Linked DNA regions of Homo sapiens: region 2 is linked to region 1. The links come from fine-mapping of genetic effects on gene expression. A gene starts in region 1. The other region holds a variant in brackets. All regions are shown on one strand. Distances are between the middles of the regions.

Region 1 (9,198 bases):
CTGACCTCAGGCGATCCACCTGCCTCGTCCTCCCAAAGTACTGGGATTACAGGCATGAGCCACCGCGCCTGGCCTGATTTGGATGTTTTCAAGCTAGCCAGAGGACAGAGCCCCAGCGTGCCTGCTTTGGGTGGCACACGTCTTTCCGTGGAGGTTTTGCTGCTTTCCAGTGCTATATAGCCTGGGGCAACCCTTTGCAAATCTGGGCCTTTAAACCGCCTTCCCAAGTGCTTTGGCTTGTCCCCAGTACCTCCTTCTTCTATACCCCATCCCCCACCTTCCCCAAAATAGTGGACTGAGAGTTCAGACCCAGGCTCCAGCCTCAGCCCATCCTCATAGAACGCCTGAGGCTAGGTGGCTTGTCTTCTCTGATTCCATAAGATCTCAAGACTTTACTTGGGGCCAGGGTGAAAAGATACTAAATTCCTACTGCACTATTATTTACATGGACAGATTCTAGGACAGGGGTCAGCACACATTTTCTTTTTCTTTTCATGTTTTGAGACAGGGTCTCTCTCTGTCACCCAGGCTGGAGTGCAGTGGCACTATCACGGCTTACTGCAACCACATTCTCCCATGTTGCTGGCTCTACAGGTGCACATCACCATGCCAGCTATTTTTTGTATTTTTTCATAGATACGGGGTTTTGCCATGTTGCGCAGGCTGGCCTTGAACTCCTGGGCTCAAGCGATCTGCCTGCCTCGGCCTCCCAGAGTGCTGGGATTATAGGCACGAGCCAGTGTGCCCAGCCACATTTTCTGTAAAGGACTAGATAGCAAATAGTTTAGACTATTCAGGCCGTGTGGTCTTCGTTCTAGCTACTCAGTTCTGCTCTTGTTGCACAAAAGCAGCCACAGACAATATGTAAATAAATCAGCATGGCTGTGTGCCAGTAAAATTTTATTTACAAAAATAGAGGCATGGGCTGGGCGCGGTGGCTCATGCCTGTAATCCCAGCACTTTGGGATTCCCAGGCAGGCGGATCACCTGAGGTCAGGAGTTCAAGACCAGCCTGGCCAACATGGTCAAACCCCATCTCTACTAAATACACAAAAATTAGTTGGGCGTGGTGGGGTGGTGCCTGTAATCCCAGCTACTTGGGAGGCTGAGGCACGAGAATTGCTTGAACCCGGGAGATTGCAGTCAGCTGACATCATGCCACTCTAGTCCAGCCTGGGTCACAAGAGCAAGACTCCATCTCAAAAAACAAATAAACAAACAAAAAAAACAGAGGCGTGAAATGAGGACTGTAACCCTTTTCCTGTTTGCCCTGAGAAAACTTGCCAGTGGCACTTCAGACTGCAGCGTTGACCCTGAGATAACTTTGCCACAAAATGTATTGCTTTTATATTATTTTTGCATCGCTCTAGTATATCAGCTTTGGAACAAAAGACATTCTATTTATAGCATTCTGTTTTTAATAGTGGTATTTCCATTTACAAAATATAGTAATTCTGTTTTTTTTTTTTTTTTTTTTTTGAGACAAGGTTTCACTCTGGTTGCCTAGGCTGGAGTGCAGTGGCGTGATGTCGGCTCACTGCATCCTTGACCTTCCAGGCTCAGGTGATTATCCCTTAGCCTCCTGAGTAGCTGGGACTACAGGCAATTGCCACCACACCCGGCTAATTTTTTGTATTTTTAGTAGAGGCGGGGTTTTGCTATGTTGCCCAGGCTGGTCTGGAACTCCTGGAATCCAGCAGTCCGCCTACCTCAGCCTCCCAGAGTGCTGGGATTACAGGCGTGAACTACCATGCCTGGCCCAAAATATAGTAATTATTGATTACTGAAAAAGTCAAATCCTAGAAAACGCAGCATTCTTACATGTGATGTTAACATCGTTCTTGAACAGTTTTTAGCCTAAGATTCATTTGAGGAGTCTGATTTTTCCAAAATAGTTCTGATTATTCAGATGATTCTGAAATAACTCCAAGAACAGTTTTTATATTTTATTTTCACGTTGAAAATCAGTCAGATTTGCTTCAGCCTCAAAGAGCATGTTTATGTAAAATTAAATGAGGGCTGGCAGTGAGCTATATTTTTTCTACATGGGAAAGGGGTTAAGACTCTTCGGCCAGGCATGTTGGCTCACGCCTGTAATCCCAGCACTTTGGGAGGCCAAAGCAGGCAGATCACTTGAGGCCAGGAGTTCGAGACCAGCCTGGGCAACATGGCAAAACCCTGTGTCTACTAAAAGAAATACAAAAATTAACCGGTCATGTAGTTCCAGCTACTAGGGAGGCTGAGGTAGGAGGATCGCTTGAGCTCAAGAGGTTGAGGCTATAGTTGGCCTTGAGTGTGCCACTGCATTCCAGCCTGGGCGACAGTGAGACCCTGTCTCAAAAAAAAAACAAAACAAAAAACAAAACCACAAACAAAAAACTTTGGTAAATACAGTTACATTAACTATTTAAAAAAAAAAAACCATCGAGGGCCAGATTTGGTCTCTGTGCCAGAGTTTGCTGACTGCTGCTCTAGAACATTTAGGAACTGGCTTCTTAGAGCTTTTTCTGTCCAGAGAGAAACCAACTTTTATCTGCTTTGTATTTTCAAAGATCTGAACTCCCCCACCCTTCCCTGTCTTCTCTTTACAGATCAACTTCCAGCCAGACCCAGCCAGGCACAGGCTGGGTCCAGTTCTGACCTGAGCACGGTTTTTCCTCATGTGACTTCTGGGAAGGCGCTCCCTCATCTGGGCCAAAGGAAGGAGGACGAAGCCCTCCTCAGCTGGCCTGTGTTTGGGGCATGAATCTCTCCTCTCCTCCTTGTCTGGCTCTGTTGACAAACCGGGCATGTTTGGCAGTAAATTGGCACCGTGTCACACTGTTTCCTGGGATTCAAGTATGCAACCAGAACACAGGAGAAGAAAAGCTCCAGGATCCCTGTCCCCATCTGTCCTCTTGATGTGAGAGAGACTCTGAGACTTCTTCCATCGCAATGACCTGTATTAAACACAAGCCCCCCAAGCAAAAGAAGAGGTTGAGTTTGCTGCCAGGATTCAGATCAGCCCTTCCCAGGGTCTGCAGGTGTCACATGATCACAGTTCAGCGGGAGGCTTTCCGTACCCACACTGGCTGTAGCCACTTCAGTCCATCTGCCCTCCAGAGGAGGGGTTTCTTCCTGATTTTTAGCAGGTTTAGAGGCTGCAGCTTGAGCTACAATCAGGAGGGAAATTGGAAGGATTAGCAGCTTTTAAAAATGTTTAAATATTTTGCTTTGCTAATGTGCTGATCCGCACTAACTCATCTTTGCAAAAGGAACTGCTCCCTCGGCGTGCCCCAGCTGGGGCCTCTGAAGGGATTCCTCACTGTGGGCAGCTGCCCTGAGCTTCAGGCAGCAGTGTTTATCTCTGGCCAGTTGTCTGGTTTCCATGTATTCTAGGCCAGGTAGGCAACACAGAGCCAAGGCGGGTGCTGGAAGCCAGACGGAACAGTGTTGGGGCAGGAAGGTGGATGCTGTTGTCATGGAGCTGTGGGAGTTGGCACTCTGTCTGCTGGTGGCCCTCTCGGCTCACATGTTCACAGTGCAGCTCCTGGCAGACTTGGGTTTTCTCTTTGGTGGTTTCTAAAGTGCCTTATCTGCAAACAACTTCTTTTCTCCTTCAGGAACTGTGAATGGCTAGAAGAAGGAGCTCAGTAAACTAGAAGTCCAGGGTTGCTTGGTTTACTGGTTTATAAGAAATCTGAAAGCACCTCTGACATTCCTTTTATTAACTCACCTCTCAGTTGAAAGATTTCTTCTTTGAAAGGTCAAGACCGTGAACTGAAAAAAGTGTTGGCCTTTTTGCGGGACCAGATTTTTAAGATAAAATAAATATTTTTACTTCTGTCATTGTATGTGAAAGATGAATGTGTTTCTGGCCGCGTGGCTGTTAAACTCTTCAGGGTGCCACAGCTAGACTCACGGCCACTTCTCTCACCACTGACCAAGTGTCCAGATTGAAAGTTCAGGGCTGGGGTGTGAGGCTGGCCAAAGTGAGGAAATGCAACCTTGTTGTCTAAGGCAATCGGTACCTTCTCTCCTGTGTTCTCTAGGATAGTACAGTCTTTTCATCATCCTTTGGTTGATGTGAAAGTAGTTGCTTGAATCACTTTGTGTGGGGCTTAATTCTCTTGTGGCGTCTCATGATACAGGCCGTTCTAGAGAGCCTGGCCCCTTGCTTTCCGTCTTCCACCAAACCTACCGGCAGAGCATCTCCCTAAGTAGTAAAGGGGTGCAGATACCCAGAGGTCAAAAGTAAAATTAAGAGGCCGGGTGCAGTGGCTCACGCCTGTAATCCCAGCACTTTGAGAGGCCAAGACGGGAGGATCATTTGAGGCTGGGAGTTTGGGACCAGCCTGGGCAACATAGTAAGATGCATTTCTTTCCTTTTTTTTGAGACACAGTCTCAGTCTGTTGCCCTGGCTGGAGTGCAGTGGAGCAATCTTGGTCACTACAACCTCCGCCTCCCAGGTTAAAGTGATTCTCCTACCTCAACCTTTCCAGTAGCTGAGATTACAGGCACCTACCACACCGAGCTAATTTTTGTATTTTTTCAGTAGAGATGGGGTTTCACCATGCTGGCCAGGCTGGTCTCAAACTCCTGACCTCAAGTTATCTGCCCGCCTTGGCCTCCCAAAGTGCTGGGATTATAGGCGTGAGCCACGGCACCCGGCTGTTAGACCCCATTTCTTAAAAAAAAAAAAAAAAAAAAAAATTAGTGTGGTGGTGGTGCATGCTTGGAATCCTAACTACTTGCGAGGCTGAGGTGGGAGAATTGCTTGAGCCCAGGAGTTTGAGGCTGCAGTGAGCTATGATCACGGCCTCGCACTCCAGTCTAGGCAGCAGTGAGACCCTAGAGAATTCTCTAAAAGAATTAAAAATGAAAAAAAGCCACAACACTTCTTTTGCCTGAGGATTCTGTAAGAAGCAGTTTTTATTGTTATGGAAATAGCCACTCTGATTAAGAAACTGTAGAGAGGAGAAAGAAAATGAAAATTGAAGATTCTCTTGCCCATTGAATTAAGGGTAAGGAGATTGCATTAAAGGATCTTCGGGAGCAGTAACTTTTTTATGTCGATTTCACATAGCATTACTTCACATCGAGTCAGTTTTAAGTACTTGGAGGGTGGAAATCAGAAAGCTTAGATGTAGAGGAAGCTTTATTAGAAGTGTGTACCATGGCTGGGTGTGGTGGCTCATGCCCACAATCCCAGCACTTTGGGAGGCCGAAGTGGGTGGCTTACTTGAGGTTAGGAGTTCGAGACCAGCCTGGCGAACATGGTGAAACCCCGTCTACTAAAAATACAACAATTAGCCAGGCATGGTGGCGCACGCCTGTAATCCCAGCTACTTGAGAAGCTGAGGCATGAGAATTGCCTCCAGGAAGTGGAGGTTGCAGTGAGCTGAGATCATGCCACTGTACTCTAGCCTGGGCAACAGAGCAAGACTGTCTCAAAAGGAAAAAAAAAAAAAGTATGTACCATTGAAGATCAGCACTTGGATTGTGGAGACAGACCTGGCCTTAGGATCTAGGCTATCCCCTGGTTAGACGTGTGGCCACAGGCTGTTCCTTCACCTGAGCGTCACTCGGATGAGGCACTAGCAGATGCACATTGCATTGTTTGACCTTAATGACCTTTCTCTGGAGTCAGGTAAGTACCCAGAACAGTTCATCATGGTAGGGAGGAGGAGGTGGCACAGCTGATGACACAGCCCTCAGGAATCTAGCCTGAAAAGCACCTTGTGGGGTCTGGGGCCAGGAGCAAGGGACAGCTTGATGCTGTCCATCACTAACTGGAATCCCAGCTGGAAAAAACTCATTACAGGACCAGAATCTCCAGGAAAACTCAATCCCAAACCAGGCATCACTTCAATTACACCCCTGACTGGAGTTTACAAACTGGTGGGTGGATGGTAGAAGATGGCTGCTTTCTTGGGGGGTATGCTAGACCTCACTTGCCCTCTGCACAACAGAATTTGGATGCACTGGGAGGTGTGGCAGATAGACTCCCAGGTGGTCACTGTGATCCCCACCTGCTGTTCACAGCCTTATGTACTCCCTGCCCCTTGAGATGGCCTAGACCTGTGACTGCTAACCAGTAGAGTGCCACAAAGGTGACAAGATGTTATTTTCATGGTTGCCTTATGTAAGACTGCAACATCTGCCTTGCTGAGAAATTCTCTTGCTGGCTTTGAAGAAGGAAGCTGTCATGTTGTGTGAGCTGCCCTTGGGAGAGGGTCAGGTGGCTAGGAACTGAGGTAGCCTCTGACAGCCAACAAGAAACTGAAGCTCAGTCCAGCAGTCTGCAAGAAAGCAAATGCTGCCAGCAACCACACAAGCTTGGAGGCTGATCACTCCCAGGTAAGCCTTCAGGTGAGACCCCAGGCCTGACCAACACTGACTGCAGCCTTGCAGAGGACCAGCTAAGCTGTGCCCAGACTGTCCCATAGGAACAGATGGTAAATGTATTGTGTTAAGTCGCTAAGTTTCTGGTAAGGTTATGCAGCAATAGATAACCAACACAAAGGTTAGCAAAGTGTGTTTGAGGTGGGAATCAGTGTGGAAAAGAGAGAATCTGGATAGACTTAATAGCTGTAGGGCCTTGGGAGGTCCCTTATGATGCTCCTTTGGGCCTTCCTGTTGCCTTTAAGTAATGCTTATTGTTTATTGCTAAAGTAATGCTTAACTCTCTGCTAGGCACTATTCTATGCACTTATAAAACTCATTGCATCATCTCTACAACCCCATGAGGTAAGGACTTGTTTTTTTTGTGTTTTGAGACAGTCTCGCTCTGTGGCCCAGGCTGGAATGCAGTGGCATGATCTCAGCTCACTGCAACCTCTGCCTCCTGCGTTCAAGCAGTTCTTCTGCCTCAGCCTCCGAGTAGTTGTGATTACAGACGTGTGCCAGTACTTCCGGCTAATTTTTTTGATTTTTAGTAGAGACGGGGTTTCATCATGTTGGCCAGGCTGGTCTCAAATTCCTGACCTCAAGTGATCAGCCTGCCTTGGCCTCCTAAAATGCTGGGATTACAAGTGTGAGCCACCGCACCTGGCCAGTAAGTACTTGTTTTAGTCTATTTGGGACTATGACAGAATAACATAGCCTGGGTAGTTTATAAACAAAAGAAATTTTTTGCTCACAGTTCTGGAGGCTGGGAAGTCCAAGGCACCAGCAGATTCGGTGTCTGGTGAGGCCGTCTTTTTGCTGTAACCTCACATGGTAGAAGGGGCAATAGAGTACTCTGGGGACTTTTTTTTTTTTTTTTTTTTTTTTTTAAGAGATGGAGTCTTGCTATATTGACCAGGCTGATCTCAAACTCCTGGCCTCAAGTGATCCTCCTGCTTTGGCCGCCCAAAGTGCTGGGCTTAAAGGCATGAGCCACCACATGGGAATGGCACTGCCTTTTTTTTTTTTAAAGATAGTTTTGCTCTTATTGCCCAGGCTGGAGTGTGATCTTGGCTCACTATAACCTCTGCCTGTTGGGTTCAAGCAATTCTCCTGCCTTAGCCTCCCAAGTAGCTGGGACTACAGGCACATGCCACCACGCCCAGCTAATTTTTGTATTTTTAGTCAAGATGGTGTTTTGCCTTATTGGCCAGGCTGGTCTCAAACTCCTGACCTCATGATCCACCTGCCTCAGCCTCCCAAAGTGCTGGGATTATAGGCGTGAGCCACCACACCTGGCTGGGGCTTCCTTATAAGGGCAATACTGTTTGTGAGGGCTCTACGCTTATGACATAATTACCTTCCAAAGAACTCACCTCCAAATACCATCATACTAGGGGTTAGGTTTCAGTATGAATTTGGAGGTGGGGGTGGACACAAATGTTTATAGCAGTACTCATCCCTGTTTCGAAAATGAGAAATGCAGAGAAATTATATAATTTGTTCAAAGTCACATGGTTGGTAAGTGGCAGAGCTGGGATTTGAACCCAGGCAGTCTGGCTCCAGCATCCATGCTTTTAGTCAGGGTGGCTACTTCTTTGGAGCAGTGCTCCCTGCAAAGCCTGGCACATAAGACCCCCTTAATATATGAAAAGTCCCATTCCCTCCACATGGCTTACGAAAGCCGTGGCAAGTAGGAATGACAGGCGAAGGGTGGGGCTTTATTCCATTGGTGATTGAAAGCTACTGAAATGCATCATGGGCACACAGTAGGTGCTTAATAGTTGTCGATTTCTATGAGCTGGGAGTGAGAAAGATACCATGCTCTGTGGACTGAGTGGACTGGAGTAGGGAAAAGACCAATTTTTCCTCACCGCAGCTTGAATGTAGACAGATACTGTTTTTTTTTTTTTTTCTTTTTTTTTTTTTTTTTTTTTTAGCCAACCATACAAAGCCTGTAAGTAGGTACTTTATTTATTTGTATTTTTATTTTTTTTTGAGACAGATTTTCACTCTTGTTGCCCAGGCTAGAGTGCAATGGTGCAATCTTAGCTCACTGCAACCTCCACCTCCCAGGTTTAAGCGATTCTCCTGCCTCAGCCTCCCAAGTAGCTGGGATTACAGGCTTCCGCCACCATGCCTGGCTAATTTTTGTATTTTTAGTAGAGACAAGGTTTCATCCTGTTGGCCAGGCTGGTCTCAAACTCCTGACCTCAGGTGATCCGCCTACCTCAGCCTCCCAAAGTGCTGGGATTACAGGCATGAGCCACCACACCCGCCCAAAATGACCTGCATTTGTCATCTCCGCTTCTGTGGTCAGGAATCTGGTGCAGCTCAGCTGGGTCACAGGCCTCTCACAGGCTGCAGTCAAGGTGTCAGTCGAGGCCGCACTGTCATCTTAAGGCCCAGCAGGGAAAGCGTTTGCTTCCAAGCTCGCTCACGTGGTTTTGGGCATGATTCTGTTCCTCGTGGCTGTTGGACAGAGGTCACTCTCATTTTCTTTCCACGTAGGCCTCTGCATAGTTCACATCTTTGCAGTTGCTTCATTGAAGCCAGCAAACGTGATTGTGGCAAGATAGCAGTCATAGTTTTAATTCCAGAAATGATCCCATCCCTTGGCTGGGTCTTCAGAGTAGAAGTCACAAGTCCTGTCCGCACTAAGTGGAGGGTGTGGATACCAGGAGGCAAGGATCATTGAGAGCCATCTTAGAAGTCTACCTGGCCGGGGTGCAGTGGCTCACGCCTGTAATCCCAGCACTCTGAGAGGCTGAGGTGGGCCGATCACGAGGCCAACAGATGAAGACCATCCGGGCCAACAAGGTGAAACCCCG
Region 2 (9,198 bases), 33 kb before region 1:
TCCCAGCTATTTGGGAGGTTGAGGGACGAGAATCACTTGAACCCAGGAGGTGGAGGTTGCAGTAAGCCATGATCACACCACTGCACTCCAGCCTGGGCGACAGAGTGAGACTCTGTCTCTTGAAAAAAAATAATAAAGGCCTAAGTGGGTGGATCACACGAGATTAGGAGTTCAGGACCAGCCTGGCCAACATGGTGAAACCCTGTCTCTACTAAAAACACAAAAATTAGCTGGGCGTGGTGGTACGTGCCTGTAATCCCAGCCACTCAGGAGGCTGAGGTGGGAGGATCACTTGAACCCAGGAGGTGGAGGTTGCAGTGACCCAAGATCACACCCCTGCACTCCAGCCTGGGCAACAGGGTGAGACTCCATGTCAAAAAAAAAAAAAAAAAAAAAGTGGTATATTATGGTATATCCATAGAATGGAAATATTACTGAGCAACCAAAAGAACAACATGTTGATACACACAATACATGAATTTCTTTCTCTTTCTCTCTCTCCTTTTTTTTTTTTTTTTTTTTTGGAGACAGAGTCTCACTCTGTTCTCCAGGCTGGAGTGCACTGGCATGATCTCAGCTCACTGCAACCTCCGCCTCCCAGGTTCAAGTGATTCTCCTGCCTCAGCCTCCCGAGTAGCTGGGACTACAGGCACCTGCCACCATGCCCAGCTAATGTTTATATTTTTAGTAGAGACGGGGTTTCACCAGGTTGGCCAAGCTGGTCTTGAACTCCTGACCTCAGGTGATTCACCCGCCTCAGCCTCCCAGAGTGCTGGGATTACAGGCTGAGCCACCGCACCCGACCTAGATGAATCTCAAATAGTCATGTGGAGTGAACGAAGCCAGACAGAAAGAATGTACACTGTACAATTTCATTTGTGTAAAATTCCACGAAATACAAACAAATCTATAGTGATAGTTGGTAGTCGCCTGGGGATAGACTAGTGGGAGGGGGGATGAGAAAGGGCATGAGGAAATGGTTGGGGTGATGGCTATGTTTGCTTTCTTGATTGTGGGGATGGTTTTGTGGGTGTGTACATATGTCAAAATATTAAATTGTACACTTAAAGTATGTGCAAGTGAATGCCAATTATACCTTACTGAAGCTGTTAAAAATAAATCTTACCAGGCTGGGTGCGGTGGCTCACACCTGTAATCCCAGCACTTTGGGAGGCTGAGGCAGGAGAATGGCATGAACCTGGGAGGCAGAGCTTGCAGTGAGCCGAGATTGCGCCACTGCACTCCAGCCTGGGCGACAGAGCAAGACTGTCTCAAAAAAAAAAAAAATCTTACAGATAAATAAAAAAAGATCTTGTGGTCAAATAAGTTTGGGAAAGGCAATATACTCTAACCATATCTTTTTAAAATTTTTTATTTATTTTTTTATTTTTATTTTTTTTGAGACAGGGTTTCACTCTGTCACCCAGGCTGGAGCACAGTGGTGTGATCTTGGCTCACTGCAGCCTGGACCCCAGGCTCAGGGGATCCTCCCATCTCAGTATCTGGAGTAGCTGGGGCCACAGACATGTGCCACCACATCCAGCTAACTTTGGTATTTTTTGTAGGAACGGGGTTTCACCATGTTGCCCTGATCTCAAACTCCTGGGCTCAAGCAATCCTCCCACCTCAGCCTCCCAAAGTGCTGGGATTACAAGCACGAGCCACGGCGCCTGGCCTCTAATCATATCTTGCAAAATCTTACAAAGGCTCAGCAGCTAGTAAACTGCTTCCAGGATATCCTAGCATACAGAAACCTGTTTCAGCTTTGTTAAACTCAGCATGTCCCAATATTATCTGTATACAGAACCTGGCACCTCCTCCCTCCCCCCTGCACCCATTGACATACCGTGGGGCCACTCTGGAAACAAGACTTATTTTTATTTTATTTTTATTTTTTTGAGACGGAGTTTTGCTCTCATTGCCCTGGTTGGAGTGCAATGGCGCGATCTCAGCTCACTGCAACCTCCACCTCCCGTGTTCAAGCAATTCTCCTGCCTCGGCCTCTTGAGTAGCTGGGATTACAGGCATGTGCCACCACACCCGGCTAATTTTATATTTTTTAGTAGAGACAGGGTTTTACCATGTTGGCCAGGCTGGTCTTGACCTCAGGTGATCTGCCTCCTTCGGCCTCCAGAAGTGCTGGGATTAACAGGCGTGAGCCACCATGCCCGGCCTGGAAACAAGACTTAAATGCTTGTGATGTAGGCTGGGGGAATAGCCCAGTGACCCACAGACTGAGTGCTTGACATCTTCAGGGCACAGAGGTGAGCAAACATTCTGTCACCCAGGCTGGAGTGCAGTGGCCTGAACATAGCTCATTGTAGCCTTGACCTCCTGGGCTCAAGGGATCACCCCTGCCTCAGCCTCCCAAGTAGCTGGGACTACAGATACATGCACCAGAATGGGGGGCATGATAGGAGGGGGGCTCTTTCACCTCCTCTGTGGTAGGTCATTCCATACCCTTCTCCCCAGATCTCCTAGGTTACCTGGCAGCTCTCAGGAGGCTGATCCTCCCCGATTCCCCGGTTCCGTTGCCTCCCCTGCTGGCCCTTGATCTCCTTTCCGGAGCCCAGCTGCTGCAGCCCTTCAGGTACTTCAGGAACCCAGGAAGGCAGCAACCCCAGCTCACTCTGATCCTGGCCTGCTTGCAGCTCCTGGGACCCTTCCTGGGGGACCCAAGAGGGCTGTTTCTTCCTGGGGAAAATAGACAAAGTGACACTTTAGCTCCCAGACTGGGGCACTGTTTTATATATTTTTACAGGGCTAGGCATACCATAGGTGCATAGCTAACGCCTGGAAGGACCAATGAAGGACTCACAGGAATTCCCCAAATCATAGACACTTTGATGTCAATGTTTGGGGGAGTTAAAATTTAAACTTTCACAATTATTTGTAGAGACAAGGTCTCTCTGTGTTGCCCAGGCTGGTCTTGAACTCCTGGGCTCAAGCAATCTTCGACCTCGGCCTCCCAAAGTGCTGGGATTAGAGGTACGTGCCATTGCATCCAGCCTAGAATTTAAGTTTTATAGTATTTTTAAACTGTTTTTCAGAAAAAAATGAAACAAAAATCAGAACTGGGATGCAGAGAGGACAAGAGATTTGAGCCTAAGGTCATAAAGCTAAAGATAACTGTTCAAAATTTGAAGCTGTGTCTATCCGATCTCACTTTAGTATTCTGGAGTATTTCCTCCAAGCTTCTTCCTATGCGTATGCATACTTATTTATTTATTTATTTATTTGAGACAGAGTCTTGCTCTGTCACCCAGGTTCGAGTGTAGTGGCATGATCTCAGCTCACTGCAACCTCCACTTCCTGGGCTCAAGCAATCCTCCCGCCTTAGCCTCCCAAGTAGCTGGGACTACAGGCATATGCCACCATGCCTGGCCAATCTTCATATTTTTTGTAGAGATGGGGTTTCACCATGTTGTCCAGGTTGGTCTTGAACTCCTGGGCTTAAGTGATCCGCCAACCTCAACTTCCCAAAGTGTTGAGATTACAGGCGTGAACCATGGTGCCCGGCTATATATATATATATATATATATTTTTTTTTTTTTTTTTTGAGACAGAATTTTGCTCTTGTTGCCCAGGCTGGAGTGCAGTGGAGTGATCTTGGCT[C/T]ACTGCAACCTCTGCCTCCTGGGTTCAAGTGATTCTCCTGCCTCAGCCTCCCAAGTAGCTGGGATTACAGGCATGTGCCACCATGCCCAGCTAGTTTTATATTTTTAGTAGAGATGGGGTTTTGCCATGTTGGCCAGACTGGTTTTAAACCCCTGACCTCAGGTAATCCACCTGCCTTGGCCTCCCAAAGTGCTGGGATTACAGGTGTGAGCCACTGTGCCCGGCCTAATGTACTTTTTTCAATTAACATCATAGCCTGTGTTTTTCGCATGCTAAAAATCCTTCAGAAACATGCTTTATATGTTTTCTTATGTTCATTAAATGTATAAAATTCCATATTTTAAAGATAACCATCATTAACCATTTCCCTATTGTGTGGGCGCTTAAGGGGTTTCTAATTTTTTAGTATTTAAGATAATGTGACAGTGAAAGTCTTTGTGCATAAAACTGCTTGAATCACCAATTATTTCCTCATGGCCTATTTCCAGAAATGGGTGAGGATAAAGGGAGTTTCAAGGCAGTTTAAACAAATTGCCACGTTGATGAAACAGGTATGCTTAAATGGTTTCTATTTCCACCGGCATGGTATGCAGTAGTTGTCTCAGTGGGCCTCGGACCTGGCTTGAGTTGTCTCTCCTAACTTTTCTTGTAGAGGAGGCTATTTAGGAGCTTCTGGTTATAGTCAAATCCAACTAAGCCAGCTAGTCTTTACTATTTCTATTATCCCAGCCTTTCACTTTGCCTCTATCTGGCTCGCTCTTGATTTTCTCTTTTTGAATACATTCTTGCTGTAGAAAAGTTTTAAAAAAACACAAAATTTAGAAAACAATTACGTGTACATCTTTACATGTTCCTGTGTCTCCTAACCTTTTTTTGTTCATTATTCTATTAATTCAGTGAATCAATATTTATCGAACATTTACTATGTGTCAGGCATAGTACTAGGCATGAGGGCTTTGAGGTTGAACCAGGTATATGATGCTCCTCAAACAAGACACATAAAAGATGTTTGTGGTCTCGTTGGGGGAGTTCAGACAAAAGGTTAACATGAACTCTTTAGTGCAACTGGTGCAATGAAAGAGAAGGACAAGGTGCTGTCGTGGGTGGAGCTGCCTTGGCCTGGGAGTTCTCCATTCTCTCTCTCTCCCCCGCGGGTGGGCTACAGGGGGTTCTCTCTTGGACCTGTTCTCTCGAGAGCCCCTCAGCTCACCCTGGTCTTGCTGGAGGCCCCTGCTCCTGGATTCTGAGCTCTGAAGGCCCCTTCTCAAATGCATCTCTGAGTCTGGGCCCCTTCTCTGGCCCTCGTGAAGCTGATGAGAGGTGCTTCTTGCTGCCCACTTCCGAAGCATCCGGAAACATGACCTGGACAGAGATATCCATGGCAGTGGCTTGAGGGCTGGCATTGAGTACCCGTTCTGGAGTGATCCCTCCCACTCCTCCCTGGGTACTCTTCTGGCCTCAAGGACAGGGAGATCCTGTGCCTGATTGGGGAAGCTGTTGGAGAGGGGTGAGCAGGAGCTGAGAGGCAGGGATGCAGGGCCCGGCCCTGCTGTTGCTGTTGCTTAGCACGTAAGGCTCTGGTATGAACTGGAGTCCAGATTAGTACCCGAGACAAGGGGATTGCCTTAAGGACAGCTTGAAAGAGCACCCTGGGGGACCCCAAGACTCTCACAAGGTCCAAGAGACGCCTTCAACAATTCCCATGCCTTCAAAACGCAGGCTCTAGTTTGAACTGAGTTTTTATTTCATTTTTTGAGAGAGAGTTTCCCTCCTTTGCCCAGGCTGGAGTGCAGTGGCACAGTCTCGGCTCACTGCAACTTCCACCTGCTGGGTTCAAGCGATTCTTGTGCCTCAGCTTCCCGAGTAGGTGGGATTACAGGTGTGCGCCACCATGCCCAACTAATTTTTTTTTTTTATTTTTTTTGTAGGCCAGGCTGGTCTCGAACTTCTGACCTCAAGTGATCCGTCTGCCTCAGCCTCCCAAAGTGCTGGGATTACAGGCATGAGGCACCGCACCTGGCCTGAACTGGGTTTTGATCACTATCATGGTCTGTCACTCTCCAACTGGGTGACCTGGAGCCAGTGACTGAGACCCCGCTCCAAGCATCACCGGAGTCAGCAAACTCCAAACAAATGGACTTAATTAACTCATTGACATTGATATAATACAAGATTCTGATGTGAGCTAATACTAACAGGCACCTACTATGAGACAGGGCCTGTGCTAGGTGCCTTAGTCAACACCGTAAAACAAATGAGGCTGCAAGGGGTGCAGTGACAGGCCCAACATCACACAGCTGGGTAAGTGGTGGGACTGGGACCCCATGACGGTGCTTGTTGAAAAAATAAATGGGTGGATGAAGGAAGCCCTGAATGTTCACCTCTAGCCTCTCTCCTAGCCTCCTCCCCTCCAGGCCCTCTCCCTGCCCCAGGGGAAGTGAGGATTTATAACAGAGGCTACAGGGAACATACCCAAGGGCATGTTGACTTTTTATTTTTTTTTTTGGCTTTTTTTTTCTTTTCCTTTTTGTGGAGAACGGGGTCTCGCTATATTGCCCAGGCAGGCCTCGAACTCCTGGACTCAAGCTCTCCTCCCGCCTCTGCCTCCCTAAGAGCTGGGATCACAGGCGTGAGCCACCGCGCCTGGCTTTGTTTTTTTTTTGAGACGGGGTCTCACGATGTTGCCCAGGCTGGTCTTTAACTCCTGGGATCAAGCAATCCACCTATCTCTGCCTCCCAAAGTATTGGGAGCAGGCGTGAGCCATGGCACCTGGCTGACTTTTTATTTTATTGTATTGTATTTTATTTATTTGTTTGTTTGTTTGTTTATTTATTTTTGAGATGGAGTTTCACTCTTGTTGCCCAGGCTGGAGTGCAATGGTGCAATCTCCGCTCACCGCAACCTCCACCTCCCAGGTTCAAGCGATTCTCCTGCCTCAGCCTCCCAAGTTGCTGGGATTACAGGCATGCACCACCATGCCAGGCTAATTTTGTATTTTTAGTAGAGACTGGGTTTCTCCATGTTGGTCAGGCTGGTCTTGAACTCCCGACCTCAGGTGATCCACCCGCCTCGGCCTCCCAAAGTGCTGGGATTACAGGCGTGAGCCACCGCGCCCGGCTGGCTGACTTTTTAAATGGTGATATCTTTGGCCCTGAGGAAACTGGATGGTGAGGAGGGTCTTCTTTATGCTCTTCAGTTCATGCTACTTGGCACATTCAAAAAGAGGCCAGTGGGGCGCAGTGGCTCACGCCTGTAATCCTAACATTTTGGGAGGCCGAGGTGGGCGGATCACTTGGGGTCAGGAGTTCAAGACCAGCCTGTCCAACATGGTGAAATCCCATCTCTTCTAAAAATACAAAAAAAATTAGACGGAAATCATTTGAACCCAGGAGGCAGAGGTTGCAGTGAGCCATGATCACACCATTGCACTCCAGCCTGGGTGACAGCAAGACTCTATCTCAAAAAAAAAAAAAAAAAAAAAAAAAAGAAGATGCCGGACACGGAGGCTTATGCCTGTAATCCCAACACTTTGGGAGGCTGAGGCAGACAGATCACTTGAGCCCATGAGTTCAAGACCAGCCTGGGCAACATGATAAAGCCTTGTCTCTACAAAAAATTAAAAAAATAGTTGGGTATGGTGGCACAAGCCACGCCTATAGTTCCAGCTACTCAGGAGGCTGAGGCAGGAGGATCGCTTAAGCCTGGGAGTTCGAGGCTGCAGTGAGTCGTGATCGCACCACTGCACTCCAGTCTGGGTGAGAGAGTGAGAGCCTGTCTCAAAAATAAACAAACAAACAAACTAATAAACATATTTGATGGAAAGAGGCTGAGAGGTGTGATGGAAGCTTAGGATGCAGGCTGGGCTCTGGGGAGGGGCATGGAGGGAAGCCCTGAGTAGCTCTCAGGAGAATAAAGCTGGGCTGGAGGCTGTGAGGGGAGTTTGGAGGCCATGCAAGGCACCTAGAAGAGCGAGTAGGCAATTCTGGGTTTGCTCACCCTGCAGCTCTTTCCGTTACAGAAGCCAGCATTGTTTTTGGGAAGCTTCTCTTCTCCATTCAGCCCATGGGGCTCAGTGGAGCCACCTATCACCTCTGTCTCCATTGTATCAAGAGATCCAGACCACTCCCCACTGCCATGGTGATTGGTTCAAGGATGAGCATCTGACCACAATCTGGGCCAATGACAGTGATGCTAGAGACTTGTTTCAACTATTGCAAAGAGGCTCACTTCCTGTTGGAATGCTAAACCAGAGGGTGTAAGATGGGAAGATGTAATCCTGGAGTGGCCAGGGCAATCCCTGCCATCTTGCAGGGAGAGCTTGCCTGAGAATGAATCCAACACGGAGGAACATAGAGCCAAGAGATACTCATTTAGCACATTGATCTAGCCATACCTGAAGTCTATGAAGGCATGTGTCAGTTACCCAAACTGATATATTCTCTTTTCTGCTTAATCCAGTTTGAATTGGGTTTTGTGTCCATTTTTAACAGAGTCTTAATTAAAGCAGCTGGGGAGGAAGCCTGGGCAGGGGAAGGGAAAGGTGCCAGCTAGGAGTGAATGGATCAGAACATGGGGTGCAGGTCCCTACCTTGCTGACTCCTGGTATGATGGGCTCAACACCAGCCCTCTTTATGGTGATCCTCAGGCCAGGACTTGGCTGCGTCCCTGGAGCCTTGGTTCTACCCTCCGTGTACATCTGGGTGTTTCTATTGTCCATGATGCCAGCGCCAACACGGGTGCCAAGTGAGGGGCATCACCTAGTGTGCTCCTACAGGAGAAATCCAATCAAGCGTCCCACCAAGCCCATCACCTAACTGCTGCTTCAGGAGCCCACTTGGAGCCTATAATGTAGACAGCCTGGCTCGAGGGAAGAGGCGGGGCCAGGCCTTGCAAGGAGAGGCACGCAGCAAAACCAGAGAGCTAGCCACATGCCATTTACCCATACGCTTTTCCTAGTTCTCACTATGACCCTGAGGAAAAGGGGCTCTGGAAGGCACAAGACTTGCCCAAGATCTAACACCTGCTAGGTCGCAGACGAGGATTTGAACCATGGCCTGTTGAATCCCAAAACCCAGGCGCTTTCCCCGACGGCGACATTTCCTACAGGGTATTCTTTGGCATACTGGTCCCTTCAGATGCTCCAAGGGGTTCCAAGGCTAAATGCCTTTGGAAAGTGCTGTGATGAGCGAAATGATACAGGCTCTTTCCTGTACAACTTCTCAGAGCCTTTAAAATACTAATGTGCCTTTTAAAGAGAGTCCAAGAATGTCACAGCTGCTCCTGCTATAGATGAAAACTCCATGTTCTTAGATGGGGCTAAGGAACAAGAACTAGGGACATCTGTCCATCTGTCTCAGGGCCCCAAAGTCTCCAGCGGCAATCTGCAGTTCACCAAAGCACCCACACCCTGCCCTGGACACATCCTTTCTTTTTCTTTTTCTTTTCTTCTTCTTCTTCTTCTTTTTTTTTTTTTTTTGTTTGTTTTGAGACAGAGTCTCGCTCTGTTGCCCAGGCTGGAGTGCAGTGCTGCAATCTTGGCTCACTGCAACCTCTGCCTCCTGGGCTCAAGCAATTCTCCTGC

Evidence for each region.
Region 2: its variant is fine-mapped to the expression of LINC01772 in esophagus mucosa (GTEx, PIP 0.97).

Annotation. Positions count from the first base shown.
Region 1 is chr1:16,456,251-16,465,448 of GRCh38, forward strand. LINC01772 (long intergenic non-protein coding RNA 1772) reads left to right here and starts at 4,698. Exons shown (of 2, transcript NR_147210.1): 1 at 4,698-7,037. NECAP2 (NECAP endocytosis associated 2) reads left to right here. Exons shown (of 8, transcript NM_018090.5): 8 at 2,592-3,828. The coding sequence ends at 2,640.
Region 2 is chr1:16,423,038-16,432,235 of GRCh38, forward strand. It overlaps SPATA21 (spermatogenesis associated 21), which reads right to left. Exons shown (of 13, transcript NM_198546.1): 3 at 8,301-8,385. The coding sequence starts at 8,334. Among named protein-coding and RNA genes, the nearest start is that of SPATA21, 9.8 kb to the right of the region's middle. The variant C/T (reference allele first, on the strand shown) is at 3,617.